Linked DNA regions of Homo sapiens: all the other regions are linked to region 5. Evidence: fine-mapped expression QTL. A gene starts in region 5. Each other region holds a variant in brackets. All regions are shown on one strand. Distances are between the middles of the regions.

Region 1 (5,224 bases), 270 kb after region 5:
CACTAAATGCCCACAAGAGAAAGCAGGAAAGATCCAAAATTGACACCCTAACATCACAATTAAAAGCACTAGAGAAGCAAGAGCAAATACATTCAAAAGCTAGCAGAAGGCAAGAAATAACTAAGATCAGAGCAGAACTGAAGGAGATAGAGACACAAAAACCCCTTCAAAAAATCAGTGAATCCAGGAGCTGGTTTTTTGGAAGGATCAACAAAATTTATAGACCACTAGCAAGACTAATAAAGAAGAAAAGAGAGAAGAATCAAATAGATGCAATAAAAAATGATAAAGGGGATATCACCACTGATCCCACAGAAATGCAAACTACCACTAGAGAATACTATAAACACCTCTATGCAAATAATCTAGAAAATCTAGAAGAAATGGATAAATTCCTGGACACATACACCCTCCATGACTAACCCAGGAAGAAGTTGAATCCCTGAATAGACCAATAACAGGCTCTGAAATTGAGGCAATAATTAATAGCCTACCAACCAAAAAAAGTCCAGGACCAGATAGATTCACAGCCGAATTCTATCAGAGGTACAAGGAGGAGCTGGTACCATTCCTTCTGAAACTATTCCAATCAACAGAAAAAGAGAGAATCCTCACTAACTCATTTGATGAGGCCAGCGTCATCCTGATACCGAAGCCTGGCAGAGACACAACAAAAATGAGAATTTTAGACCAATATCCCTGATGTATACCGATGCAAAAATCCTCAATAAAATACTGGCAAACTGAATCCAGCAGCACAACAAAAAGCTAATCCACCATGATCAAGTGGGCTTCATCCCTGGGATGCAAGGCTGGCTCAACATACACAAATCAATAAACGTAATCCAGCATATAAACAAAACCAAAGAAAAAAACCACACGATTATCTCAATAGATGCAGAAAAGGCCTTTGACAAAATTAGACAGCCCTTCATGCTAAAAACTCTCAATAAATTAGGTATTGATGGGACATATCTCAAAATAATAAGAGCTATTTATAACAAACCCACAGCCAACATAATACTGAATGGGCAAAAACTGGAAGCATTCCCTTTGAAAACTGGCACAAGACAGGGATACCCTCTCTCACCACTCCTATTCAAAATAGTGTTGGAAGTTCTGGCCAGGGCAATCAGGCAGGAGAAAGGGTATTCAATTAGGAAAAGAGGAAGTCAAATTGTCCCTGTTTGCAGATGACATAATTGTATATTTAGAAAACCCCATTGTCTCAACCCAAAATCTCCTTAAGCTGATAAGCAACTTCAGCAAAGTCTCAGGATACAAAATCAATGTGCAAAAATCACAAGCATTCTTATACACCAATAACAGACAAGCAGAGAGCCAAATCATGAGTGAATTCCCATTCACAATTGCTTCAAAGAGAATAAAATACCTAGGAATCCAACTTACAAGGGATGTGAAGGACCTCTTCAAGGAGAACTACAAACTACTGCTCAACGAAATAAAAGAGGACACAAACAAATGGAAGAACATTCCATGCTCATGGATAGGAAGAATCAATATCATGAAAATGGCCATACTGTCCAAGGTAATTTATAGATTCAATGCCATCCCCATCAAGCTACCAATGACTTTCTGCACAGAACTGGAAAAAACTCCTTTAAAGTTCATATGGAACCAAAAAGAGCCCTCACTGTCAAGTGAATCCTAAGCCAAAAGAACAAAGCTGGAGGCATCACACTACCTGACTTCAAACTATACTACAAGGCTACAGTAAAGAAAACAGCATGGTACTGGTACCAAAACAGAGATATAGACCAATAGAACAGAACAACAGAGCTCTCAGAAGTAATACCACACATCTACAACCAACTAATCTGTGACAAACCTGACAAAAACAAGAAATGGGGAAAGGATTCCCTGTTTAATACATGATGCTGGGAAAACTGGCTAGCCATATGTAGAAAGCTGAAACTGGTTCCCTTCCTTACACCTTATACAAAAATTAATTCAAGATGGATTAAGGACTTAAATTTAGACCCAAAACCACAAAAACCCTAGAAGAAAACCTAGGCAATACCATTCAGGACATAGGCATGGGCAAGGACTTCATGTCTAAAACACCAAAAGCAATGGCAACAAAAGCCAAAATTGACAAATGGGATCTAATTAAACTAAAGAGCTTCTGCACTGCAAAAGAAACTACCATCAGAGTGAACAGGCAACCTACAGAATGGGAGAAAATTTTCGCAATCTACTCATCTGACAAATGGCTAATATCCAGAATCTACAATGAACTCAAACAAATTTACAAGAAAAAAACAAACAACCACATCAAAAAGTGGGCGAAGGATATGAACAGGCACTTCTCAAAAGGAGACATTTATGCAGCCAACAGACACATGAAAAAATGCTCATCATCACAGGCCATCAGAAAAATGCAAATCAAAACCACAATGAGATACCATCTCACACCAGTTAGAATGGTGATCATTAAAAAGTCAGGAAACTACAGGTGCTGGAGAGGATGTGGAGAAATAGGAACACTTTTACACTGTTGGTGGGACTGTAACCTAGTTCAACCATTGCGGAAGACAGTGTGACGATTCCTCAAGGATCTAGAATTAGAAATACCATTTGACCCAGCCATCCCATTACTGGGTATATACCCAAAGGATTATAAATCATGCTGCTATAAAGACATATGCACACGTATGTTGATTG[C/A]GGCACTATTCACAATAGCAAAGACTTGGAACCAACCAAAATGTCCATCAATGATAGACTGGATTAAGAAAATGTGGCACATATACACCATGGAATACCATGCAGCCATAAAAAGAATGATTTCATGTCCTTTGTAAGGATATAGATGAAGCTGGAAACCATCATTCTGAGCAAACTATCGCAAGGACAGAAAACTAAACACTGCATGTTCTCACTCATCAGTGGGAATTGAATAATGAGAACACATGGACACAGGAAGGGGAACATCACACATCGGGGCCTGTCGTGGGGTGGCGGGAGGTGGGAGGGATAGCATTAGGAGATATACCTAATGTAAATGACGAGTTAATGGGTGCAGCACACCAACATGGCACATGTATACATATGTAACAAACCTGCACGTTGTGCACATGTACCCTAGAACTTAAAGTATAATTTTAAAAAAGCAGACAATAAATACTGTAGGCTTTGCAGTGCACATGGTCACTATTGCAACTATACAATTTTGTTGTTGGAGCAAAGCAGCCATACACAATACATATATGAGCATAGTTGTTTTGCGATAGAACTTTATTTACAAAACAGGATTTGGATTTGCTTTAGTTTGCCAATTCCTGGATTAGGCAATGAAGATAAATGGCTACTAACATCATAGAATGATAGCCAACCAGGCAATAGTTGCCTCTTTTTTTCTTTATTTCTTCTAAAAGAAAAAAATATCGGATACATGTGCAGAACGTGCAGGTTTGTTACATAGGTATACGTGTGCCATGGTGTTTTGCTGCACTTATTGACCTCTCCACTAAGTTCCCTCCCCTCAACCCCCACCCCTGAATAGGCCCTGGTGTGTGTTGTTCCCCTCTCTGTGTGTATAGGTTCTCAATGTTCAACTCCCACTTATGAGTGAGAATACGTGGTGTTTGGTTTTCTGTTCCTGTGTTAGTTTGCTGAGGATGATGGTTTCCAGCTTCATCCATGTCCCTGCAAAGGACATGAACCCACTCCTTTTTATGGCTGCATAGTATTTCATGGTGTATATGTACCACATTTTCTTTATCCACTCTATCATTGATGGGCATTTGGGTTGGTTCCATGTCTTTGCTATTGTAAATAGTGCTGCAATAAACATAGGTGTGCATGTGTCTTTATAGTAGAATGATTTGTGTTCCTTTGGGTATATACCCAGTAATGGGATTGCTGCACCAAATGGTATTTCTGGTTCTAGATCCTTGAAGAATCATCATACTGTCTTCCACAATGGTTGAACTCATTTACATTCCCACCAACAGTGTAAAAGCATTCCTATTTCTCCACAGCCCCGCCATCATCTATTGTTTCCTGGCTTTTATTAATCACCATTCTGACTGACGTGAGATGCTCTCATTGTGGTTTTGATTTACAGTTCTCTGATCATCAGTGATGTTGAGCTGCTTTTTTCATGTTTGTTGCCCATGTAAATGTCTTCTTTTGAGAAGTGTCTCTTCATATCCTTTGCCCACTTTTTGATGGGGTTGTTTGATTTTTTTCTTGTAAATTTGTTTAAGTTCCTTGTACAGTCTGGATATTAGACCTTTGTCAGATGAGTAGATTGGAAAATTTTTCCCTCATTCTGTAGGTTGCCTGTTCACTCTGAGGATAGTTTCCTTTGCTGTGCAGAAGGTCTTTAGTTTAATTAGATCACATTTGTCAATTTTGGCTTTTGTTGCGATTGCTTTTGGCATTTTAGTCATGAAGTCTTTCTCATGCCTATGTCCTAAATGGTATTGCCTAGGTTTTCTTCTAGGGTTTTTATGGTTTGGGATTTTACATTTAAGTCTTTAATCCATCTTGAGTTAACTTTTGTATAAGGTGTAAGAAAGGGGTCCAGTTTCAGTTTTCTGCATATGGCTAGCCAGTTTTCCCAGTATCATTTGCTGAATAGGAGATCCTTTCCCCATTGCTTGTTTCTGTCAGGTTTGTTAAAGATCAGATGGTTGTAGATGTGTGGTGTTATTTCTCAGGTCTCTGTTCTGCTCCATTGGTCTATATGTCTGTTTTGGTACCAGTACCATGCTGTTTTGGTTACTGTAGCCTTGTAGTATAGTTTGAAGTCAGGTAGTGTGATGTCTCCAGCTTTGTTCTTTTTGCTTAGGAGTGTCTTTGCTATATGAGGTCTTCTTTGATTCCATATGAAATTTAAAATGCCTACATCAGAAAGCTAGAGAGATCCCAAATCAACACCCTAACATCACAATTAAAAGAGCTAGAGAGACAAGAGCAAACTAATCCAAAAGCTAGCAGAAGATAAGAAATAACTAAGATCAGAGAAGAATTGAAGGAGATGGAGACACAAAAACCCTCCAAAAAAATCATTGAATTCAGGAGGTGGTTTTTTGAAAAGATTAACAAAATAGATAGACCACTACCAAGACTAATAAAGAAGACAGACAAGAATAACATAGACACAATAAAAAATGATATAGGGGATATCACCACTGACCCCACAAAAATACAAACTACATCAGAGAATACTATAAATGCCTCTATGTAAATAAACTAG
Region 2 (4,621 bases), 330 kb after region 5:
CAGATTTCTTCTTAGTCTAAGGTTTCATCATCAGCCAGCATTTGCCAGTGCTGCCCTAAGGCGGCTGGCCATCAGAGCCACGTGGGAGCATCACTCCTCAGGCTTCACTGCCAGAAAGGCTGGCACCAGAGTTCTGGGATTGGACTAGGGAATCAGTATTTTTAACAGGTCCCCAAAGTGATTCTGATGCAGTCAGACCACAAATATTTGGCTTTTGGAAATTAATAAGTACCATTAGAGAGAAAGTTTGTATGAAAAAAAAAAATACATCACAAGTGCGGTTCTTGCTACTTCTGCCAAACTGCCATTTTCTCCAAGGTACTTCTTTCTGGTAATGGAGGAAGAGAGCTAAATCCAATTAAAACTCTCTGTGATGCTACTGAAGCTCAGTGTGATGGTTAATTTATGTATCAACTTGCCTGGGCTGAGGGATGTCCAGGTGGCTGGTAAGATATTATTTCCAGGTTTGTCCGTGAGAATGTTTCTAGAAGAGATTAGCATGTGAATCAGTAGACTGCATAGATTCCCTCACCAATGCAGGTGAGCATCATTCAATCTCTTGGGGGTCTGAATAAAAATGTGCTCTCTCTCTTTGAGCTGGGACATTCAGCTTCTTCTGCCCTCAGACATTGGCACTTCTGGCTCTCAGGCCTTTAGTCTCAGACTGAATTATACCACCAGCTTTCCTAGTTCTCTGGCTTACAGACAACAGATTGTGAACTTCTTGGCCCCTGTAATATCATAAGCAATTTATATAATAAATATCTATGTCAATACAGATATAGATAATTAGTTTTATTTCTCTAGAGAACCTTAACTAATACATCCATTGATATTAAAATCATTATCAACCTGATATATATTGGTAAATTAGAGTATGTCTCATCATATTATAGCATAATGATAAAGTCTTAATGCATATTCTACTTTTGCAATTTGGGGTCTAGCTAGCCTTCTCACAACTCGATGTAGGACATAGTTTAGATTCTTGTGTGTAGATAAGCCCTTGTCACCTTTTCAAAAAGTATTCTTTATAGCATTAAGTAACAGATGACCTAAATATTTTTAAAGTTTATAATTTACCTTTAAATCTGTAATTTGTACATTAAAAAGTTCAGGAATTATAAAGGCCCTGGAATTAATATAAAAACAAATATATTTTTAGTATAGGGAACAATCTCTTAGTTATGATTAAAGGCAACCTTATTTTTATCTCTCACCATTTGATTGCACCTTGAATTTATGTGGGCTCTTTAAAGATGTTAATGCCTAGACCCTACCCTCAATGGTTGTGATTTATTTGGACTGTAGCATAGCCCAGGCATTGGGATTTTTGAAAGTTTCCCAGGTGACATTAATACACAGCCAAGATTGAGAAGTGTGCTTCGCACACGATGGAGTGGGAGTACTCTGCAACTGAACCAAGGCTTGGGCAAGTCCCTAACTTCCCAGCAACTCTCAGAGGATGCAACCTTCTGCTCACCTGTGTAAAGCACAGTCTCAATGAGGAAGTTTGACAGTCCAGTCTCTTGGAGAAACCCAGCCTCTAGATTTCTCTATTTATTTTTGCTTTTAATGTCCTCTCCAGCTCACATGGCTCGGGTGGTGGAGGGGTGGCCAGTGAGCCCAGTCCTCCTGCTGTCTGCTCTCTCTGCTCATCTGCTCCCACAATACAGAATCAGTATTCTGCTTTGTGAAGGCTGGGCTGGGAGATAAAGAGGTGTGCATAAAGAGAAAGAGTTAGCAAAGTTACTTGGCTGGGAAGTTTCTTTGGGCTTTGGGGGCCTACCAGATGGTTAAAGCTGAAGTCGTGGCTGAGTAGACAGATGTTAAGCTATCCCTTTCCTACATGAGGCTCTTTCAAGGTCTCTTCAGAGATTTCCTTGTTGGGACTTCCTTCACCTGCAGTTTCCTTGGTTGCAACTCCTTTCCTGGCTACTTTGCATGTCCATACTAGCAGTCCCTACTGGCCTCTTTTTTCTGTGGCCTATTTTCCTCCCTGTTGGTCCCCAGGTAAAATCTCTTCCCCCGGCACACATCTGGTCCAGGGAAACACTGGCGCAGCCCTTAGACCATGCTCTCAGGGCTCTACCTCAGGAACACTTAGCCCTTTCATTGTTCTTCCCAGTTCCTGGCCCCAATCAGATTCAGTGCATTCTGTTAGATTTATCAGGCTTCCCAAAGTAGAGGGCACATTTCAGAGCCCTCCGGGACATCTACTTGAAGTCCCTTCACTTTCTCAGTTGGTGTGTTTAGAGCCAAAATGAAGCCAGTGGGCTGAGAGGTGAGGGTTGGGGCAGGAAGAACAAGGCAGCCTAGTTGGATATGATGTCTCAGGGGAAGAGGTCAGAGTGTAAAGGGGCCTAATAAGCCAAGGTACCTGCAGGGGTGCCCACTAGAAGGCTTTCTGCAGAATGCGATGTGATCTAATTATGATTCGAAGAATAGTGTGGACAGTAGGCAGACAAGAGCAGAATCAGATATGAGGCATCACAGATAAGACCTGCTCTCATGGCCCCTGCTGATGTGTAAGGCATTTCCCCCGAACCTCTTCTGCAGGTCAAGAAGACACTTTGCTCCTTCCTTTATCCTAACCCTCTGCCCAAACCTGAGAAAAATATGACAGAGGCCCATTGCAGTTTAGAAGGTCTTTATACTAACCCCAAGATTCTCATTTAGGAAAGAGTCCATAATGGTTTCACTGGAGTGAAGCAAAGGCAACTGTACAAATATAATCAGCCCACTGAAGGTTCTGGCCTACAACATAAGAGTTTCTTCTGTTTAGCACCATCAAACACTCTCGTGACTGCACATATCAATAACTTTAAGAAGTTACCTTCTCCCCACTTGGACACAGGGTGGGGAACATCACACACCAGGGCCTGTCGTG[G/A]GGTTGGGGGAGGGGGCAGGGATAGCATTAGGAGATATACCTAATGTAAATGACGAGTTAATGGGTGCAGCACACCAACATGGCGCATGTATACATATGTAACAAACCTGCACGTTGGCACATGTACTCTAGAACTTAAAGTATAGTAAAAATAAATAAATAGAAGTTACCTTCTCCCTTTTTGGAGGGCAATTTGACCACATCTATTAAAACTTTAAGTGCTCATAAAATTTGACCTTGCAATTTTACATCTGGCATCCATCCTACAGAAACACTGAAGTCTGTGCACAGAGTTACAAACACAAGAACATTCACTTTGCATTATTTGTAATAGTGAAAATTGAAAACCTTAATGTTTCATCAGTATAATGGTTAATTAATTCATGATAATCCATATTACAGATAGTTATGCAAAAGAAGACCAATTTGAACTCATGGAAACAGTGACACGATTTATGGTTAAGTGGGGGAAAAAACTAGTTTCAGGATAATATGTATGGCAAGATCCCACTCTTGGAGAGAAAAAAAGATATATGTGTACAGTGTATGCACCTGTGTCTGTAAAGGCCCACAACAAAGTCATCAAACTATTAACAGCAGTGGCCTTTGAGAAAGGGAGTGTGAGTGGAATGAAGAGGCCAAAGAGAGAATACAGATTGCTCAGCACTTCATAGTGTGATTTAATCTTTTGTAATAATAATGCATTTGTACATTTCCTATGTGACTTTTTTTAACTAGAAAAAATAAACAACAACAAAAAAAACAAGAAATACAGAAATGTGGTTGGCCTAAAAATCTTGGGTATTACTTCTTAATTTTAACAAAAATGTTCTTACAATCCTAGTCTGGTTGCTATTCCAGCCTTTCTAAATTCCTGACCTTCACTGCTCATCAAATTCTAATTAACCTTGTGGTTCCCCAGAGTCTTGCAGGTGTCCGGACCGGCTGGTGTCTCCTGGAGCAAACCAGCCCTCCTTCTTGTGGTAGGCAACTGCCTGGGTGCTAACTCCTCGGTGACAGCAGTGTAAATGATTCCATTGGTCTTCTAGGAGGCAGGAACTTCACAGACCTCAGTGCATAATAACAAATTCAATGCTTAACAGGACTTGTCATGCATGGAAGGAGCTGCGGTCGCCACCACAGTGGTCACAGGACCACAAGTGTGAAGTGAAGAGCTGGCTCTGACAGTGATTGCTCTCTCTAAACAGGTCAGGGTTTGTTCTGCCTCAGTACAAACAAACAGTGCCCTCTTCTGCCCAGCAGCAGAACTTCTCTTCAAAACCATCACCTTGTCAGAGTATCTGGAACTTTCACCCTGTTAGGTTGTTCACTGCAAAATGAGCCAAAGAAACTGGAAAATAACACTGATGAGGGAGAGGTCATCTGTCGGAAAGCTGTCACTCTGATTCTGCCCTAAATTCATGTCCCAATTTTACAAGCATTCTATTTTAACCGCAGAGAAGATGAAAAGATTTAAATAATAGAGTAAGTTACATCTATCAAACTGGCCAAAAAAAAAAAAAATTTAAGTGCTTAAACTTTGTATTGCTATGATAAAATATTATCCATGGTATGGAATATCAGTTCAAGCTTTCTGAGAAACAGTCTGGCAGCTGGTTACCATTTTAAAAATATCCTTTATTACATTTTAGTTCAATAATTATTTATTTGGGAATATTTCATGAAAAAAATAGACACAAAGACAATGAAGTAATTTACATAAAGATGCTT
Region 3 (5,224 bases), 230 kb after region 5:
AGTATGACAAGACCTTAAAAAGGTTTGCACAAATTTCTGTGCATATTGGTTTGGAGTACAGAGGTTAGAATTCTGTGACAATGAGAGAAGTTTTCAAATCTGCAGCAAAAATTCCAAAGCATAGACCCCAAAGCATGAACAGCTGAGAAGATAGTCATTCAGTTCTAGGAAGGTGATCATGCAAAGAGTGGGCAGGGGTGAATGGAAGTGGTGAATAATTTTATTAGCTGCAAAATCTTGATTATCATAGAAGAAGAGAAGCTCTATAACTGTCTATGGTTGGTGTCTTTTCTGGTGTCTCAAGAGATGTTATTGTGAGAAGTATTTAAGATTGACAACCTGAAGACACGGTGCCTATTCCCACGAAGAGTTCTAAGTTCCCGGTGGGATAGAGCTGGCATAGTCCTGCCTGCAATGGCTTCTGCAATTACTACCTGCTGTCACATTTAGAAAAGGGGTTCACCAGGCTGGAAGAAGAGCAAGAGCAAGACTGCCATAAAAATGGCACTGAGTCCCAATATATAATCATCTCAGTTTTCAATTGAAAACTTCAGAGAATGTGTAGGGTGACAAGGGCCCTTGGCAAGCGAGCAACCTCATGTGAAGTATCAAAACAGGATAGGTAAGGCATCCATGCAGGACCACCCGGCCCAATTAGGTGAGGGAGAAATCCAAATGAAGGGGTGGCCCAAGCAATACAAGGAGCGTGTCTACCTGTGGGTGAGACCTGGATGGGGCAGGTGAAAAATAAGTCCTGCTGAAGGTGCCTTCTGCTTGTGATGAAAAGGGCACCTACAGCATGGACAGCCAGCACGAGGAGGCAGGTCTCCACAGGGAGAGGGCATCTTCCTTGTGGAGAGGGGAAGTGGGTTACATACACAGACATAGATTATAAGGTAAATAGATTAGGGATAATGAGAGCCACATTTCTTAATGTTGGAGAATGGTATTATGAATATGCAAAGTGAGAAAACTCTGATGAACCCTGTGATGTAATAATGGAATTGGAGGCGTTGGTGTGAATTTGTGGAGAGAGAGCACCCTAATTTCCCAAGTCCCTATTTCCCTAACTCCCTAACTCTCTAACTCCCTAACTGCCTAATTCCTCAGATGAGAGTGCCAGAGAGCAGCAGAAACATCCCAATAGTAATCAACACATCTGGCTTCCAGATCATGGATTCTAAATATTATTCTTCACTAGAAGGAACCAGGACTTCTTGGAGAAATTCCTGATTCCAGGGCTGGGACAGGGAAACATACAAGATGACCTGGAATATCTTGTGTCAAAAAGCAAGGAGTTGCCCAAAGAAGAATAAGAACATATCAATAGAATACAAAAGGCAGCTGTACTGGGCTCTCACTGGCTAATCAGGGAAAAGTTGATCATCAAAATAAATAATGATAAATAATGGATTATAAGTTATTGAAGAAAATAAGATACCACAAGTCCATATATATTTAAATGAATAAATTGAAAGTTTGGCAGATAATGAGCTATTCACAGTTTTAAAGTACTTCCCCAGAAAATATGCTACAGTGAGTAACTTCACTGTGGAGACATCACCTTTATATCATGTGATAAAAATAAACATTATCAGTGATGGGACAAATCAAAATTGTGCCCTACCTGAAAAGATTCCAGGAAAGTGCACATAGCATCATTTCTGTGACAATTCTGCCAAAGATGCACAACTTAAATATAATCAAAAGGCAACATTAAATAAACCCAGATGGAGAGTCATTCTAAAAAGTTAACTGGGCAAAGTTATGTAATCCAGAAAGCTGAATTTAAGACAGGGAGCTGTCTTAAACTGAAGGAGACTAAAAAGACGTGACAACTACAACACGCTGTTGAACCCTTTTGACATAAAGGATGGTACTGGTCAATTGTCAAAACTTGAATGAGGACTGAGAATTAGAGTGGTAATGTATTGATTTTAACATTGTAATTTTGATTATCATGTGGCTATGTAGGATAAAGTCCTTGTTTTTAGGAAATGTTTATTAAAAATCCTAGAGGTTGATGGGGCATCAGGTGGGCAACTTACTCACATATGGTTTCAGAAATTTCTATAGACATTGCCAAATGTTTTAGGGAGTTGGAGAAAAATTGTCTCCAGTTGTTCACTCAGAACAGATATTACCAGGGCTCCACTCAAATATCTTCAGGCCTTTGCTAGAACACAACGCAGGAAATTGCCAACTTTGCAGCATTTCACTACGTCATT[C/A]GATTTTTAAAATTCCTATTTCACCAACTGGGAATGTTAAAATTGGATGGCATACTGAAATACTTACTAATATCCCACTTTCCATACTCCAATTATTACTCATGAGAAATCTAGCATAAACAACACAGTTTTTAAAAGTCGAATATTTCTTCTGAAGAAAAGGCAACAGAAATTACTTTCTTGCTGAAGACAAACATTTATGTATCTAAGGATGAGGCTGTATGGGAGATGCTGATCAGATACAGAGAATCAAAGAGATCTACAGTCCTATATCCTCTAAGTGGTAGGCAGGTTCTTTTAAATCAAAACTCTCTCTTCTAAATCAGAACACCTATCTCTAACAGCCAAGCAGTCTAATGAGAATAATTTTCAGGCCATTTATCTGGCCAGGATGTTTTCTCCTCAATTGAGAGAATACCATGTCAGCCAGGGTTATCTGTTTTCATAGATATCAGGGGTTTCATTCTTCATTTACTCATTTAACAATTATTTACCCAGCAATATACCTTTTTGCCCAACACTCTGCTAGGTGCTATGAAGAAGTCTGAATAGGAGTTTTAACATTTTATTTGGGAAAACAACATAAAGTCATCTGAAAGTTTAAGCAAGATCACAAAACCCCATGCTAACAGAAAATATGTAAAACTGAAGAATTATTAAATTTTTAAAAATCTCGACATTGTTTGGAAAGAGAAACAGATTAAAGAAAGAAAACAATTTTTGGACAAAAACTCAAGTGTCATAAAGACTCTCATTCCACAGTGTCAGAATTCTGTGTATCCCTTGGTTTTGTCACTGTGGCTCTTGAAGCTTTATATATGTCACCTGTATTCTTGTAGAATGAGAAATGCCATATGGCTACCTTTATACTTATAATAACATTATTGGCTTTAAAATCAAGTGACCTTTCTTGGATCACAATGTGGAAAACACATGGTACAAACAGCTTAAAATCCCCTGTTAACAACGCTAATAAAGTTAACATTGGTCTCTTAATTTTGTTTGCTTTTTCATTTTTTCAACATTGAGGAAAAGAAAATTAGATCAAAATTAATGTTTAGGCTCAAGAGACATTCGACTTCATGCCTACTCTCTTTATTACTCCAAATGTAATTAAGTATGTTGACTTCAGTAAATGTACCTTCTGCTATGCATGCATCGATTTCAACAGTAATGAGTTTGCATTCATTATAATTTATTTTAGCCAGATAATTAATACCACCCTTGTTTATTTCTTCAATCATGAAAAAGAATGGGTGTTTGCGTATTTGTTTGCACATGGTGATGATTCAGCGGTCTTTTGTATGCTACTAAATCGCAGTATCTTCCATCGTTGAGCTGTTGCTCAGGCCTAAGAGTACAGAAACCATGGCTTACAAAGGCCCAGGTACATCCATTTTTATTCTAAGCAGTGTAATGGGATTCCTAAAATCCTAAGCCACCCAGGTGGACATCTGAAGAATAATCAGTCATATTTTTAAATACCTAAGCTTCAACCTGAATAATAATCTTCAGTCTCATAATTTTATTTTGCTATTGAGAATCCAGATTTTGTCAAACTTGCCATTTGTTGTCTGATTCTCATATCTTTCTCCCTACATATTTACTCTATCTGGCTGTTTCCAGTGTTTTGTTTTATTTTGTTTTGTTTTGTTTTTGTTTTTTTGCCCCTTTCACCTTTGCTTGCCTCACAGATGAGCACATGTCTCTTTTATTGGATTGTTTTCTGGCTGGAACTTGTTAAGACACAAAAGAAAGAAAATCCAAGGGACTAACTTCGCCTTTCAATTATTTACCAAAAACTTTATTTCCCTTCCTTTCTTGGTGTATTAGGGTTCTCTAGAAAAACAGAACCAATAGAATGTGTGTTTTTGGATACAGATATAGTGGATATAGATGTGTGTGTACACACACGCACACACACACTTATACACACACACACACACACGGGGGGAGGGAGGGAGAGAGAAAGAGGGAGAGAGAGAGAAAGAGGGAGAGAGATAAAAAGGGAGAGAGAGAGAGAGAGAGAGAGATTTATTACAAGGAGTTGGCTTATGTGATTATGGAGGCTAAGAAGTCCCAAGATCTGCAGTCGGCTGGGTGGAGATCCAGGAGAGCCAATGGTGTAAGTTCCAGTCCCAAAGCTAGTAAGTTTTAAAGTCAAGAAGAGTTAATGTTTCAGTCCCGTCTGAAGACCAGAAAAGACCAATGTCCTAACTCAATCAGTCAGGCAGAAGGATTTCCCTCTTACTCAGCCTTTTTCTCCTATTCAGGTCCGCAGTGGATGGGACGAGAGCCTGCCACATTAGGGAGGGCAATCTGCTTTACACAGTCTACTGCTTTACATTTTAATCTCATCTAGAAACCCCTCACAGACACATCCAGGATAATGTCTGGCCAAACATCTAGGTACTCCCTAGCCCAGTCAAGTTGATATATAAAGTTAATCATCACACTGACTTCTTTCTCACAAACATGTGTAACAAAATCATATATGATAGGGTTTTTCTAAACACCTTTAGAAAAGCACACAAATAATGAAAAAAGACATTTTATTATTATCTACATTTCAGTGACTTTTGCCTACAGTGGCTTAATCAGCAACACTTTCCAATAGAAATGTCTGCAATGAGAGAAATGCCCTGTTATCACCCTGTCCCATATGATAGCCACTAGTGAAATATGGCTGTTGAGCCCTTGAAATGTAGCTAGCGCATTTTAAAAAGTAACTTTTTAATTGTATTTAATTGTAATTAATTTAAATTTACATATCCACTTATGACTAGGGTCTGCCATATTGGACATCATAACTAAAATGATACATTATTTTAAAAGGGGAATACATTCTCAGAAATCCAATACATTTGGAAGTGTAAACATTTCCCACTGACCTTTCTTTATAGGGAAAAAAAATAAAGGAAAACATGCATGCTGGAAATCTTGATGATTTATATTTTGAGCTTAGGTTTGGGATCCTGCATATTGACCTCAAGGGG
Region 4 (5,224 bases), 310 kb after region 5:
AATGTAAAACCCAATACTATATTTAAAGCATCTAGCACGGAGCCTGGAATAGAGAAGTGCTAGACAAATGCTAGTTCTTTTTGTCCTTCCAGTGTCAGTCCTACAGCATCAGCACAATTCTGTCACTCATGTCTCAGCCATTCCTTGTAAGATTTTAGACAATGTAAAATACATTAAGTGTATTTTATTTTATAATATATTCACTAAAATATCAATACATTTTGAAATTTCAGGAGGTAAGAGAAAAACAAGCAGGTGTGTAATTACTGCTGATTTTGTAGCTTAATTCAGCAGTGCAAAGATTTTCCTGTCTACTTCCAAGCAGGGACATACCTGTCTTGAGCTTACACATTCACAGTAGTCTCAAAACCTAAACCAGGAGACTCTAGGCTTGCTTTTGGTTGCAGTTTAATAATACTGTGGATTAGTAGCCAAACATTTCTTTGAAACATTCAGTAAGAGCTAGGCAATACAGATCTGGTGTCTGGGTCTTCCAGGAAACTGACAATTTTAGGAAAGCCATGGAGGGGGGGAAAATGAAACAAGGTAAAGAGAAAGCTGTAAAATGAAGTTGATGCAGTACTGGACAAACCCAACACCCAAAATTTTCAGTTTCCATGTTCCTGCATTGTCCCTACCTTCATCCTTAAGAGTTTCAAGAGACCAAATGATCCAAAGAGCTAAGGACCCTGGATCCAAGAATACTGTTTTCCGTCTGGTAAGGACACATTTTTTTTTTTTTAATCTGTGAGCTCAACTTCCAAAGGGCATTTAAATCAATGAGAAAAGAAACAGACTATCCAGGGAAATCAATTCTAATAATCAATCGGGTAACAAAGGTCTAGCCATTTATATTCATAAAAGTAATTAGGAGTCTTGAGCGTTTAAGAACATGAATGTTTTTGTTAAAGGAAATGTACATTAATTTTCATATTAATTCATCTAAAACACAGATCTTGCTTTTGTTGAAATTATTTTCCCTCTTTCACTTTTTACCTCCTTTCTCCATGAGCATTCATTCCTATGGACTTGCTACAGTATACTAGTCACAGAGCCATCGGTCATTAAATAACTATTTACTGATTCTCCTACTTGTACTCACTATTTTACAGGCCAGATAAACATTAAAGAAAACTTTTGTAATGCTTCCTGATGTCTTTTTTATCCCCTTCCGTTAAACAAGAATCTCAGGGTTTTATAAGCTTGCAATATCCTCCAACAACGGTTGCCTAATCATCTGTTGCTAAATCAAAGCTTGATGAGATGAGCAGATAAAAATACAATCAGGGTGTGGTTATATTTCCCTCAGCAGAGGCCTCATATTGCACCACATTTGAAGAAGTAATAGACAGTGATTTTGTAGGCTGTCTCAGGCTCAGCTCATGTTCTGTTTGTGATAATTAGAACTTGTGAACCTCAAGAATGAGCAAGAGTTCTTTTTGCTTACTTCTGCTGTCCACACAACCAAAGGTCTATCTTCTTATATACGAATAGCAAGGAGAGCGGCCTTTGGAGACTGTGTGAAGCCAATCAAATAGGAAAGGCTCATTTATAGCATAGTTTTCAGCATGCTTCTAAACTAGTAGCTGTTCAGAACCTGGAAGAATATGAATCAAATTGCATATTTTGAATTGTACTAGTCTGAATCGACTCATTACTATGAATCTTGCAAATGTTCCCTTAAGCAATGAGGAAGGAGGAAATATAGAAAGTAAATCTACTTAGTAATATAAAAGGCAATACTAGCAAGGCCACACTCTCAAAGAAATTAATCGGTAAGTATTGATTTTTTACACTGTGTGAAGTTCCCATCCATGCAAACGACAACAAGGCCCTGTTGTTTGACAAACCATTTATTCAGGATCATTGGTATCGACTTGTAGTGAGTCAACAAAAGTAGGGAGTTCACATATTTTTTCTTCATTCAATAGAAAATACTGTGTCTCCTTGGCAACTGAGATTGCTTGGTTGACTTTTCCCTTTGCTTTCTACTTACAAGGTACAAACAATGAAGGAGTCCCACCACCTGTGACTTGGGTTCAGAAACAGATTTCTCTGCCTCAAATCACTGAAATAACCCACTTTGTGTGAGGGCGCAATTCTGTGCTTTATTAGATGTATATAGCATCTTTATGGTCAAGTCTCAGACAAATGATAAAAAGTAATTCAAATATAGAAAGTAGTTTTTAATGCCTGAGTTATGATTTCCTCATTCGGAGGCTCCTGAAATGCAAGTGAATAAGAATTATCACTCTTAACTAGCAAACAATACACTTTATTTTCAAACATAATCAACTTATGTAACGAAACAACTGAGTAAAAACATAAACACTTTTTCCCCATTAGGTAGAGTTTTCTCAGAACTCTGGAGTTGTGAAAATGACCCTAAGCTCAAGCAAAGAGGTGTAGAGTTACATCTCTCTTTCTACATTGGCATTGGTGATTAAAAGAAATCAGGATGAGCAGATGGTGCCTAAGGTACAAATCTTGAATATCCACTTTTCTGGAGATAGAATATCAAGTGCTGGTGTCGTCTCCCACCTCACCATTGCTGCTTTTCTCCCACTTCATTGATCTATCTCCTCCATGTCAGGCCCATGTGAGAGCTGAGGGCTTGGTTTCCTCTGATAGAAAGAAGACAAATACAGTTGACCTGGGGCTGTAGAACCAGAGGATTTGCAAAGGCATTATTGCAATCAATATCCAATCACATCAGTTTCCTTGTATATGTGCTACAGAGCAGTTCCCACTCTGTAGGTCTTTTGCTGGGTCACAATTTGATGTTTCATCTTTATACTCTAGGAAACAAGTGGACTCATGAATTTGAAGGGTTTTGTCTTCCTCTCTTAGAGTGGTCCTCTTACTCCTCTTCTCATTGGCCCCTAATTTT[A/G]TTCCACCTGTGGAGACACTCCAGAATCAAGCCTCGGGTTATACTGGGTAGCTGACTGTGCAGATAGGACAAATCATGATTTGTAATCTTCCTTCACTGGTACCCTGCTCAAATACCAACACTCGTGTGCTTCCTATTGTTGAAGGTTTCACTCTGTAATACTAAGGGCAGTATTTGCTCCTGTACTAGGTTCAACAGTGTCCTTCAAAAATTCATGTGCACCCTAAACCTCAGAATGGGATCTTATTTGGAAATAAGAGTCTTTGTGTATGCAGTTAGTTAAATATAAGTTTACTCTGGATTAGAGTCAACCTATTAAGGACCTTATAAGAGGAGAGGACACACAGAGACATAGAAAAGAAAACAGTGTGACAACTGAGACAGAGACTGGAGTGACGCTGCCGCAACCACTTTCTTGCTAGGAAGAGGAAAGAAAGGATTCTTCCCTAGCGTCTTTAGAGGGGAGACAGCTCTGCCAACACCTTAATTTTGAACTTCTCATTTCCAGAATAGTGAAAAAATTAATTTATGTTGTTTAAGCCATTCAATTTTTTGTTTGTTTTACTTTCATTTACTTAATCTATTTATTCATACTACATAGATAATTATTTACTTTTTCTTTTTATTAGTGATGTCCTCTCACAAGAACTTAAGCTTCAGGAAAGCAAGGATATTTGTGTGTGTGTATGTGAGTGTGTGTTTGTATGTGTGTGTATGTGTGTGTGTGGTTTATTTCTATACTCTCAGTGCCTAGAATAGTGCCTGTCATGTTAGATGCTTAATTAACGTTTTGAAATGAATGGAAGGACAGGTAGATTACCTATATCAAAGCTCTTCATAGAACATTCAATTCCAGAAGATAATGGATAAATAAGGGGAAATATGGGACCCAATAATTTTATCCTCAGCCCATTCATGTATAAAAGCAATAGGAAAAGATTGTTAGATGTGAATGATCTCAGAAAATATAACATGCATGACCATGTTTTGAAAACCTTCCTGATAACAAAATTTACCCAACTAAGATGTGGTTCACAGTACAGAGCTTAAGAATGTGGAAGCTGCTTTCTGAAAAAACTAATAAAGTAAACATTAATTCCCTTCTAATTATGGCTAAGGCAAAAAAAAGAACTATTAATATGGCTTTAAATTTATCAAAAAGAATGCAAATGTTATAAATTATTAAGAAAAGCTGTACAATAGAAAAAGCAATAAGTATTATAAATTTGGTCAGTAGTTTTAGAACATAATAGTAAAAATCAGAAGGAACAAGATTGTCCTGTGTTCGTAATTTTTCACTCTGGGAGACTAAATTTTGTTGCCAAAAATCCTCTCATACAACATTGGTAGTAGTGAAAATTTGTTAAATCCTGTGAGAGGACAATTTGGCAATATCCATAAACTGTTAAAATATATACGAAAATTGATTGCAAAAATTATTCTAGTTTTTCACACTGACGCTAAATGCCCTACCACACATACCTTGGATTCAAGTTTGCTGGGGCCAATGGAATAGTAGCAAAAGACACAAGAGACTTGAAGAAACATTTACATGTTCCACCTCCTTTCCGTGGCCCTCAGTCTCACCATGAAAACATGCCCAGGATGGGCTTCTAGGAGAAATCCTGAGGCTTTCTAGGCCAGCCAACAGTTAGTCAACCCCCAAATGTATGGGAGAACCCAGCTAAGATCAGCAGCAACACCTAGCCAACCCACAGCTTACTTACAGCAGACATGTGAATCAATCTAGCCAAGACTAAAAGAATCACTAAACCAATATGTCATCCTATGAATAATAGTAAACGTTTGTCTTAAACTATCATATTATAGGAAAAAAACCTGATATATGAAATTACCCTGTGAGTTTATATTAAAGATACACTTACCTTCTCCAACAAGAGTTGTAACAATTTTTTTCTTATTGCAAACAATGCTATGGGGATACTTATAGTAGCATTTCTGCTCAACGTAATATTTTATTGTAGCACTGTTTGCAATAAGAAAATAATTGGAAACTGCAGAAACGATCACTAATGAGGTATGGGTTAAAAATCTTTTAAGTTGAAAGCAACAAATGTGACAATTAAAAGGCATAAATTAGACATATATTTTACATTATCACAACTTGTATTACTAAATGATAAAAATGAGTTGCAAAATAATATATAGAACTTTATATTTTATAAATATGCACATGAAAAAATGTTTGTAAGTATGCACAAACTGTTAACAGTTATTACTTCAGAGGAGTGAAAAATAGGTTGAAAATGAGAATGACTTTCATTTTTAGTATACTTAAGTACATTTTCAATTTTCAATTATATGCAGTGATTT
Region 5 (5,224 bases):
GTAGTCTATATTTTCAAAAGATTTAAAACTCTTTTGGGTCAGAGACCCATTTAAAAAGCTGATCAAAGTTACGGATATTTTCCTGAGAAAAATCCACATGTACCCAGCATTTCAGGGCTGCTCTTCTAGCTGTCCTGAAATTCATCAGAGGCAGCAAATCTGAGATGGAGTATCCCGTAGGCTTTAAAACCTTCCACTTCCAAAATCTATTTCGATAAACCTTAAACCACTGTTTTCTCCATCCCCCAAGGAAATTTATAAACATTGTGCCTTGCAATATAGCTGTTGACATTGGCTACATTAATTTCATGGATTAAAACAAAAGAGCATCATTTTAATCACCAGTAGTCTGCAGGAAAATTCCAACCAGAACTATAGCTTCCAATCAGGTTCTGGAGTTGCCACTCCAAATCAGCAAGGAACAGTGAAACCAAAAGTATGGGAACACCCTGCCTATCAGAAGTTCCAGACCAATGGTCAACTGACCCTTCTCTGTCACTGTTGCAAAGCAGATGATACTGCAGGAGAGACTTTTCTGATTGACTAAAATTCTGTGAGAATTTTACACGAATAAGGACCCGAAACTAAGACAATCATAACAAACCTTAAGATCTCTATGATACTTGTTAACTTTAAGCAAAACTAGCTTTTTCTTCACTTTTTAAATCTAAATGGCTTTTGCTGTATTTTCAGTTCTTCTCTTTATATGTCTTTATGTTCCTTCCCATGTATTTCCTTGCTCTGTTGGCCACATTACTTCACACGAAAACAACAGGAGTTTAAAAATTTAACCTGTATTATATCTTTTTTATTCATTTATTTATTTTTTGACAGGCTGGAGTGCAGTGGCAGATCATATAGCTCACTATAAACTGGAACTCCTGGTCTCAAGCTATCCTCTCGCCTCGGCCTTCCAAAAGTGTATTGTATCTTGATGCTTTCAGTAGAATGGTTCACCTTATAACCTCTACATGGCAGGATGCATAATCACCAGTTTATTCTGTAATACCTGAGCAAAAATTCAGCCTAGCTAATATGGCCTCTTTCACCACACTGACAAGATAAGGATGACGTCCACTTAGTTGGCCACCACCAGTATCATAATATTAGATAGTAGTTTAAAAATATATAATGGAAACTAGCTGGTGACCACCACTTTACTTCCAGTTTTGAAATTGCTGACTCATCCTATTTAAGAATCTGTTGTAAGCATCATTTAAGAATTAGTTTGGTTTAGACATACTTTGAAGTCAACATAGTTTTTAATGCATGGAATTACATAAAGTCAAATGAACTATATACCCTTGCTACATGCGGTCTTAATAACACTTGAAAAAATTGGCTGGATTTTCATTTAAAAGCCACCTTGAATAATGATTTTATTTCAGTGAAATTCGCTCGTATTTTTTCCAAGTTCCTTCGACATTCTAGATACACTATCGCTTCTCTAAGAGATAACTGGCTGGCGCAGAGTTGGAACCAATACAGACCCAGGCCTGACTGCCAAGCACTGACCATTCCTGCAAATTTCTCTCCCAGAAGACGTGTGCAAGCAAAGAAGAGGGCGATAATTTGATTTTGCAAAGGTAGGGATAGACGCGCACGCACAGACATCTGCACCGGCCCACAATGAGTTTGGGACGGGAGCAGTTAGGAAGTGGGGAGCTGCGGTACCTTTTCTTGGCCTTCCTGAGCTTGACTGGGTGCAGAACTCAGCCCTCAGGGCTGCGGGACAGCGTCTTCTCAGAAACCCGCAGCTTGGCTGGGGCCGCCAGACGCGCGTCCCTCACCCTCCCAGCGGAGCGCGGGGTGCCCGGCCCGCCTTGCGCTAGCCAGCAGCCTGGAACGCCGTAAGAGCGCAGCGCAGTAGGGAGTCGCACGCCAGGGGCAAAGGGACCTGCGATCTGCGCTCCTCCGGAAGCGGGAGGATGGCTAGGAGAGCCTCAGAAGTGTCATTAAAGGAAAAACCAAAAATTGAAGTTGCGGCTAAGTTTTCCCCATGAGAAGGCGGGGCAGCTCGGCCAGTAGGATAGACCGGAGGGTAACGCTGGAGCTGGGAGGGGCCCTGGGCGTAGGCTTTCGGGGAAAATTCCATCGCCCTTTCAACCACCACCACTCCCCTCCCAAGGCAAAGAAGCCGAGCTCTGTACCTCCATCGAGTCCTGGCTGCAGGGTGGGGGGCGACAGCCACCGCAGCCGGGAGGGTGCGGCCACCCAGTTCCCTCCCGGGGGGCGCCGGACTTCGAAGGCAGTGAGCGAGTCAGCTGGGATTCCCCCGGGCGCCTGCCACCCGGAGTCCCAACCCCTGGCGAAAAGAAAAGTGAAAGAGAAAGAGCCGGGAGCATAGGCGAAGACAAACACCTCCCGCGGAGACTGGGGGTGGGGCGGGTGGCGGCGGCTCCTGGATGACTGACTGCCCCAGGTGTCACTGCTTCCCGGCCTGTTTCCGTCCCTGCCGGGGCCTGGGGCGCAGAACTTGCAGGGCAAGCGCAAGGACATCGAGGAGCCCCAGCCCCGCCCTGCAGGAACACCAGCCACCGGTCTCCTCCTCTACCTGCCGGGACACCTGCAGAGAAGGCACAAGGATAGCCGCATCCCAAGCGACGGGCACCATGTGGGAAGCTTCCGCAGCTGAACCTGGAGACCCGGGCTGGGCTGGCGCGCATCCAAGTCTTCCTGAGGAAAGGGAAAAGGATGTCGGATCTGGATGCTGGGCGGCTACTCTAGACCGGCCTCTTGGTCCCCGCACAGGCTGCAAGAAGGAAACTTTGAAGTCCAACTAGGGGAAATGTTGGAAGAAGACACCCGGGTGGCAGCTTTGTGCAAGACAGTTGGTACAGGGAGTGAACTTAGAGCAATGAGCCTCTCTGCGGATCACTTTTCCAGCCTATTGTGTAGTCCAGTGTAAAATATCACACATGGTCCCATTTGATGGAAGCGTGAGATGTTGTTCTTGTAGTATTTTTACATTGGAGGAAGGAACTGAGTTGAGGCTGAGTGATTTGCATGCCATAAAGGCAGTAGCAAAGATCTCACGCTTAGTTTTGAAAGTACTTTGCAGAATCTTGCACTCTTGTGAATCACTGAAAATCCCTCTTGTACGGTGCTTTCCAAATTTTCAGAGTCATGGTTCAGAGAAAATGATGTCTTCCTGGAGCGCAGTTTAATTTAGTTTAAAATTTAATTATGTTTTTAATTACATAAATATGATAAATATCAAATAGAAAAATAATAGAAATTATTCACTTTCCATGTACATAAAGTTCCGTATAATATAATTTCATATTTTTATGAAAAATTTGAGTTTATTTTCATTAACTCAATTTTTTGATATCAGTTTTATATTTGAAATAATTACTGATGGACTTTTTGATGAGAATTACATCAAACTCTAGATAGTCTCCATTAACAAAATAAGTGAGGTATAAAAATGCAAAAACAGTTTTTACAACCATTCAAAATTTCACCATAGTTGGAAATTATATTTAAGAATATGAAGCCATCATCCATTTCTGTTCATGACGATGTCATGTTGAATTTTCTTGTGATGGTGTCAATGGATTTCAAGACCAGTCAGAATTTTTCATAGCAATACATTGAAGCTCTGATTTGCAGAATGAGCATGCACTGGGAGAGCAAGACTGCAGCTGGTTTGGATCTCACCACAAGAATATAGCAGCCACGGAAGGACTGATATGCATATGTGTGAAGATAGAGAATAGGGATGAACAAGTGTATCATGTGTCCCAACCTCATTTTGGACTGTTGCAGAGCTTCCTGGACTCCTGCCATGTAAACTCCTCTAGCACCTCTTTCAGCTCCTTTAATGGATACTGTGTTCTCTGCAGCCGGTGAAGGAAGCAGGTGTCCACGCTCAGCACCACCTAGCAGAGCTCAATATCAGATATTGCTGCTGCCAGAGGACATATCATCACATCTCAGATCCTGTCTCTCTTGGACTGCCCACAAACTCTATAGAAAGTGCTCTCAGCTGGTGCTCACTAGCCTGTGGGCTTCAGCTTTGTTAGCTGTCTGCAGGACTCAGGGCCATCAGTATCTGACTGCATACTTTTAATATATTGAGACCACCAAGAACGTTCTGAGCTACTAGAGAGTTTTCACAACACTATGAAATTGACGGAAAGTTTACTTGTAGGGTGAACTTAAGGCATAATCTGAGTATATAACAGTAAGAAAATTGGTCTACAACTGTTTATTGGGTTTCAACTATAGTAGGTTCTAGAACAAGATGGACTAAATGATATATAAAGCATTTTGTCAGAGTAGGGAGATAAAAAACATAAATAACAGTAAAGTACAACTAAAAATTATTATAGTCATAAGATATGCTTTGCTCTACTATTTGCCTCCCAAATATGTTGGTCAAATTTGTTTTCATAAATACAGATGTTTTAAAAGTATTTTTAATTAGTTATGAGTGCCTGCAGTTCAATGAAGTTGGGTTTGCAACATAATTTGTTTTTGTTGCATTGCACTCAAAAAGAAAAGTCTAATGTATGCAACTTGTGTTTTCAGTTGCCACAGGCTGTTTGGCAAAATATTGAAAATTACTCATACCAATGAACAAGTAAATTCTGCTGCATAAATTAAAAGCAAAGATGAAGATTGATGAAATAATTTGAAACTGTCTTAAGATAACTAATAAAATTACAGGGTAGAAAGAAGTGGAGATTAACTAAATCTCATAGAAGTGACCATAATAATCTTCCTGAATTCAAATAATTAACAATAAAATTATAGTTTAATAAATTTTTAATATCTTTTTTCAAAAACAATGTCAATTGGGCAATCATCTTTAAAATAAATTACTAATAATTTATTTTCTAGCTTTTGTGATTACATGGAAGAAGTTACAAGTTATTTCATCTGATTTAGTGTTCAAAGTCCATGACTGTGGCCTTATTTATGGTTTTACTAAGATTTAAACCTCCCATCAAGAACAAGTTGATCCCCTGCTCTTTGGAAAACATGGCCTGCCTGGGTTCTCTACATTTCCATTCGGGGTAAAGCATGCTGAAATGCAGCATTACCTCGAAGTTGCTTCTCACATTTTTTTCTGGTGATCCTGACAATAGACAGATACTCTTGGCCTTAAATACTATTTAGGTTTTCAAGAGCTCCTCAAGTTGCTGCTTTTTCAGAACCACAACAGTATTAGTTAGGACTTCTGTAGTTCCTCCAATCTGCTATTTCTCCAGTGCTG
Region 6 (5,224 bases), 69 kb before region 5:
GCATAGGCATGTCATAATGACCAAGACCCCAGTGTCCAAACTCACATGGCACACCACTATCTCAGGGAACAGGCAGATATGCACAGCAGGGAAGCTTCCAAACAGCCACTAGCCATGTTACCAACACATACCTGTGCTTCACAGCCAGCAAGCACTCTGAGCATGTATGTGCCTGCACCCAGCCTGGCAAGTGGTCATGTGGCAACCTACTCCCATGAAAGGCCACTGCAGAGCTGCATGGCCTTGCTGCACCCACAAACATTCACATGCAGCCCGACATCCAGTCCTGCAGCAGCTCTGCCTCTCCAACAGACTGCCACAGGGATGCTTGGCATTGCTGTGCTCATCTAGTTTGGTGGCTGCCCTGCCTCACTGAAAAGAAAGCCACACAGCCACCTTGCTGGCAGCATCTCTGTAAGCTCAAGCCTGGCCCAACAGCCAGCACAGCAGTAGCCACTGACTCTCTGGAGAGGTAGCCAGACAGCTTGTCAGCTCTCTGTGCCCCCACATGCCCAACCTGAAAACCAACCCAGTGCTCCCACCCCAAGAAAACTATGCCACTACCTCAAAAGCTCTCACAGCGTAGACCACTGAGTCAATCACAGACACCACTGATGAGTATTACAGCCAAAGAAACTGCACAGATACCGTGCTACTGAGTCCACCCAGAATCAAAGCCATTCACCATGCTGAACTTATACCCTAGGATTTATCTACAGGAAATGTCTCTCCCTGAAAAAGCTACTCCATAAAATTGGAAACAAAAACTATTCTACTATATGAACAAGTATCAATGCAGAGACAAAGGAAATATAATAAAAGCAAGAAAACATGATACCCCCAAAGGAACACAATAAATCCTAGTAGAAGACCCCAAGTAAAATGATACTTATGAAATGCCTAAAAAATAATTAAAAATTATGATCTTTAAAAAGCTCAGTGAGATACAATAGAACACAGACAAACAATCAATAATTGGAATGAGAAATGCATAATATATAAATATAATTTTAAAAGAACCAAACAGAAATCTGGGAGCTGAAAAATTTGATAAATGAAAATTTAAAAAATACAAGTGAAATTTTTAACAATAGACTAGATCTTTCATGAAGGAATTTCTGAACTAGAAAACAGGCGTTTGAAATAACCCAGTCAGAGGAAAAACACAGAAATAAGAACAAAAGAGAATGAAGAAAGCCTACAGAATACATGGGATACAATTAGGCAAACAAATATTCACATTATAGGAATGCCAGAGGAAGAAGAAATTTTTTTAAAGGCATAGGAAATGTATTTAAGAAATAATAGCTTTAGGCTTCCCAAGTATTCAGAGATACAAACATCTAGATTCAGGAAGCTGAAAAGTCCCTAATTAAATTGAACCCCAAAAGATCCTTTCTGAGGCACATGATTATCAAACTGTCAGCAGTCAAAGACAAAGAATTCTAAAAGCTGCAAGACAAATGTATTAACTCACATACAAAAGGATCTCTATTAGACTATCAGATTTTTCAGCAGACTAGGAGAGAATGGCATGACATATTCAAAGTGCTGAAAATTAAAAAAAAAAAAATCAGCCAAGAACACTATATTCAGCAAAGCTATCCTTCAAAAATGAAGGAGAAATGAAGACATTCCCAGACAAACAAACACTGACGGGATTCATCACCACTTAACTGATCTTACAAGAAATGCTTAAAGGAGTGGTACAATTGGAAATGAAAGGCTCATTATTACTATAATAAAAACGTGTGAAAATATAAAGCTCACCAGTATAGGTAAATTCATAAATCAAACTCAGAATATCCTAGCGCTGTAATGTTATGCAAATCTTTTAATCCTCTAGTATGAAGGTTTAAATCAAAACGGTCAAAAATTACAACAGCTACATAATGGGTAAAGAAGTAAATTAAGGAAACAAATATATAAATAGTAAAGAAAAGAGAAAACATCTGGAGTATTTTTATGTGAACAAAATTAAGTTGCTATCAGATTTAAATAAACCATCAGTACCCTTTATCCTTATAATAACCACAAAGAAAGATATAACACATATACAAACAAGAAGGAGAAAAGAAACCAAGCTTAGTAACACATAAAACCACCAAACCACAGAGATAAACAATAAAAGAGGAAGAAAGGAACAAAACATTTA[C/T]GAAATAACCATAACCAGAAAGTAATTTTTTTAATGTTAGGAGTAAGTTATTATCTATCAATAATAACCTTGAATATAAGTGGACTAAATTCTCCAGTTAAAAGATAGAGAGTGGCTGAATGAATTTTTAAAAGGAACCAACTATATGCTGCCAACAAGCATAACACAGACTGAAAGTGGAGGGATAGAAGAAGATATTCCATGCAAACAGAAACAAAAAGCAAGCAGAAATAGCCATACTTATATCAGATAAAATAGGCATCAAGTCAAAAACTGTAAAAAGAGGTAAAGAAGGTCATTATATAAAAATAAAGAAATCAATTCAATAAGAGGATGTAACAATTATAAATATTTATGCACCCAACACCAGAGCACCCAGATATCTAAAGCAAATATTATTAGACCTAACAGGAGAAACAGAGGGCAATACAATAATAGTAGAGGGCTTCAATATACCACTTTCAACAATGAACAGATCATCTAGACAAAAAATCAACAAAGAAACATTGGACTTAAATTATACCATAGACCAAATGGCCCTAACAGACATTTATAGAACACTGCATCCGACAGAGTACACATTCTTCTCACCTGCATATGGAACATTTTTTAGGATAGATCACATGTTAGGCCACAAAACAAGTCTTAAAATTTTTAAGAAGATAGAGATCATATCAAGTATCTTTCCTAACCATAATGCAATAAAACTAGAAATCAATACTAAAATAAAAACTTCAGAAAATTTAAAAATACATAGAAATTAAACAACTTTTTCTTAAATAACCAATGGGTCAATGAGGGAAGTAAAAGTGAAAAAAAATTTCCCTCAGACAAACAAGAATGGAAACACATCATATCAAAACCTATGCGACATAGTGAAAGAAACTCTGAGAGGGAAGTTTAAAATAGTAAATGCCTACACCAAAAAAGAAGAAAGATTTCTAGTAGACAATCCAATGATTCACCTCAAGGAACTAAAAATAATAAGAACAAACTAAACCCAAAATTGGTAGAAGGAAGGACAGAAATAATACAATTCAAAACATAAACAAATAAAATACAGACAAAAAAATGAATTCATATAAAAACCAAAACAAAGATTTGGCTTTTTAAAAAGATAAAAATCAACAAACCTTTACCTATGGTAAAAAACAAGTGAGAGATTCAAATAAATAAAATAAGAGATGAAAAATGAGACATAACAACTGATACTACAAAAATACAAAGGATCATGAGAGACTATTATGAATAAGTATACACCAAAATAATTGATGACATGGAAGAAATGAATAAATTTCTGGACACATATGACCTATCAAAATTAAAATAGAAAATCCACCAAGAAATAGAAAATCTGAACAGACTGATAATGAGTAAAGAAATTAATAACAATTAATATAAATTATTATTTATTATTATCACTAATAAGTCTTCCATCATCAAAGAAAAGACCAGGACCTGAAAGCTTCACTGCTGAATTCCACCAAATATATAAAGTACTAACACCAATTCTCCTCAAACTACTGAAGAAAATTGAAGATGGGAGAATACTTTTAAACTTATTTTATAATGCCTGCATTAATCCGATTCCAAAACCAGACAAGGATACAACAAAAACATAAAACTATAGGTCAATATTGATGAGGAATATAGACACAAGATTCTTAACAAGACAGTAGCAAACTGAATCCAACAGCATATTAAAAAAATCATTTAGTATGATTAAGTGGGATTCATCCCAGAGATGCAAGCATGGTAAGCATGGTATAACAAGCTAATCAATAAATATGGTACAACACATTAACAGGAAGAAAAACAAAATCCAGATGATAATATGCAGAAAAGCATTTGAAAAACTTCAACATTCCTTCATGTGAAGAACTCTCAAAAAATTAGACATAGAAGGAATGTATCTCAGTAGGTCATATATGACAAAACAACAGCTAACATCATACTGAAGGGGGAATTGCTGAAAGCTTTTCTTCTAAGATTAAAGACAAGACAAGGATGCCTATCCATGACTTCTATTCAACATAGTACTGGAAATCTTACCCAGGACAATTAGGCCAGATAAATAAAAGGCATCCAAATTGGAAAGGAGGAAGTCAAATTGTCCCAGTTTGCAGATGATAAAACTTTATATATTAAAAACCCTAAAGAATTCATCAAAAAACTTTTAAAATTAACAAATTCAGTAAAGTTGCAGGACAGAAAAACAACATTTAAAAATCACCAGCATTTCTATACACCAATAATGAATTAGCTAAAATGGAAATCAAAAAGGGATCCTATTTACAATGGCTACAAAAAATTAAAAAAATCGAATACCTAGAAATAAACTTAACCAAGGAAGTGAATGATCTATACACCTTTTTTTTTTTTTTTTTTCAAGATAGCAGATAGGAGGCAGTGTTAGCATGCCTCTCCCACTGGGAAAACTGGAAAAATCCACAGACCTTTTGAAAGAAGTGATAGGCTGCAGCCTACTCCATGAGATAGGAAAAAAAATAAAAGTTCCCAGAGTATGAGACGGGGAGATTCTACCTTTGAGCACATATCCCCACTAAGGAATCTGAAAATCCAGGCCACAGGAGAAGGCCTTAATGCTACCAAGAGCTGGAACAAATTTAGGGAGCCTCGTGAAAATAAAAGTAGAAGCAGTCGCAGGAAGTGCCTTGCAGGTATTCTGAGTCTCTAGTATGAACCAAGGAAAGCCATTCCTGACTATATCTCACAGGAGCCCTCAAGAAAGTTAGCCAATGAGCTCAGGGAGGGGTCACAGGGTAAAAGAAGCTCCCAGCTGAATTTGTGATATAATTTTGAGTAGGGATGTACACCCATCAACAGAACTTGGTGGCGAGTGGGAAGAGCACTGCTGACCAGCCTTGAGGGCAGACGAGAGGAGGAGGGATGTGACCCAAAAGTCATGCTTGCTATTTCTGCAGGGAAGCTTATGGCCTCAGGCAGGTCTGAGTTCTGTGCATATGTTATGTGGACCTAAACCTGGTGCTGATAGCAGGACACTTCAGGAGTGAGATTGGCCTTGCCAACTGCAAGGAGCTGGATGAG

Direction of the effects. Positions count from the first base shown, and alleles are read on the strand shown. Sizes are in standard deviations (SD) of each study's normalised expression. Not every link is listed here.
For the expression in fibroblasts of the gene that starts at base 2,316 in region 5, A is the high allele of the variant in region 3 and C is the other (moderate effect, 0.54 SD a copy in GTEx).

Evidence for each region. PIP is the estimated chance that this variant, and not a neighbour inherited with it, causes the effect.
Region 1: its variant is fine-mapped to the expression of IL15 in whole blood (TOPMed, PIP 0.93).
Region 2: its variant is fine-mapped to the expression of IL15 in blood mononuclear cells (TOPMed, PIP 0.97).
Region 3: its variant is fine-mapped to the expression of IL15 in fibroblasts (GTEx, PIP 0.91).
Region 4: its variant is fine-mapped to the expression of IL15 in whole blood (TOPMed, PIP 0.99).
Region 6: its variant is fine-mapped to the expression of IL15 in whole blood (TOPMed, PIP 0.95).

The regions. Positions count from the first base shown.
Region 1 is chr4:141,360,318-141,365,541 of GRCh38, reverse strand. No RefSeq gene overlaps it. Among named protein-coding and RNA genes, the nearest start is that of LINC02432, 30 kb to the right of the region's middle. The variant C/A (reference allele first, on the strand shown) is at 2,686.
Region 2 is chr4:141,306,862-141,311,482 of GRCh38, reverse strand. No RefSeq gene overlaps it. Among named protein-coding and RNA genes, the nearest start is that of LINC02432, 23 kb to the left of the region's middle. The variant G/A (reference allele first, on the strand shown) is at 2,891.
Region 3 is chr4:141,408,060-141,413,283 of GRCh38, reverse strand. No RefSeq gene overlaps it. Among named protein-coding and RNA genes, the nearest start is that of LINC02432, 78 kb to the right of the region's middle. The variant C/A (reference allele first, on the strand shown) is at 2,229.
Region 4 is chr4:141,325,361-141,330,584 of GRCh38, reverse strand. All of the region lies in intron 1 of LINC02432 (long intergenic non-protein coding RNA 2432), which reads left to right. Among named protein-coding and RNA genes, the nearest start is that of LINC02432, 4.6 kb to the left of the region's middle. The variant A/G (reference allele first, on the strand shown) is at 2,891.
Region 5 is chr4:141,633,675-141,638,898 of GRCh38, reverse strand. IL15 (interleukin 15) reads right to left here and starts at 2,316. Exons shown (of 8, transcript NM_000585.5): 1 at 2,151-2,316. RefSeq lists an enhancer at 2,314-2,403.
Region 6 is chr4:141,703,056-141,708,279 of GRCh38, reverse strand. The region is part of intron 2 of IL15 (interleukin 15); the gene reads right to left. Among named protein-coding and RNA genes, the nearest start is that of IL15, 69 kb to the right of the region's middle. RefSeq lists an enhancer at 237-737. The variant C/T (reference allele first, on the strand shown) is at 2,156.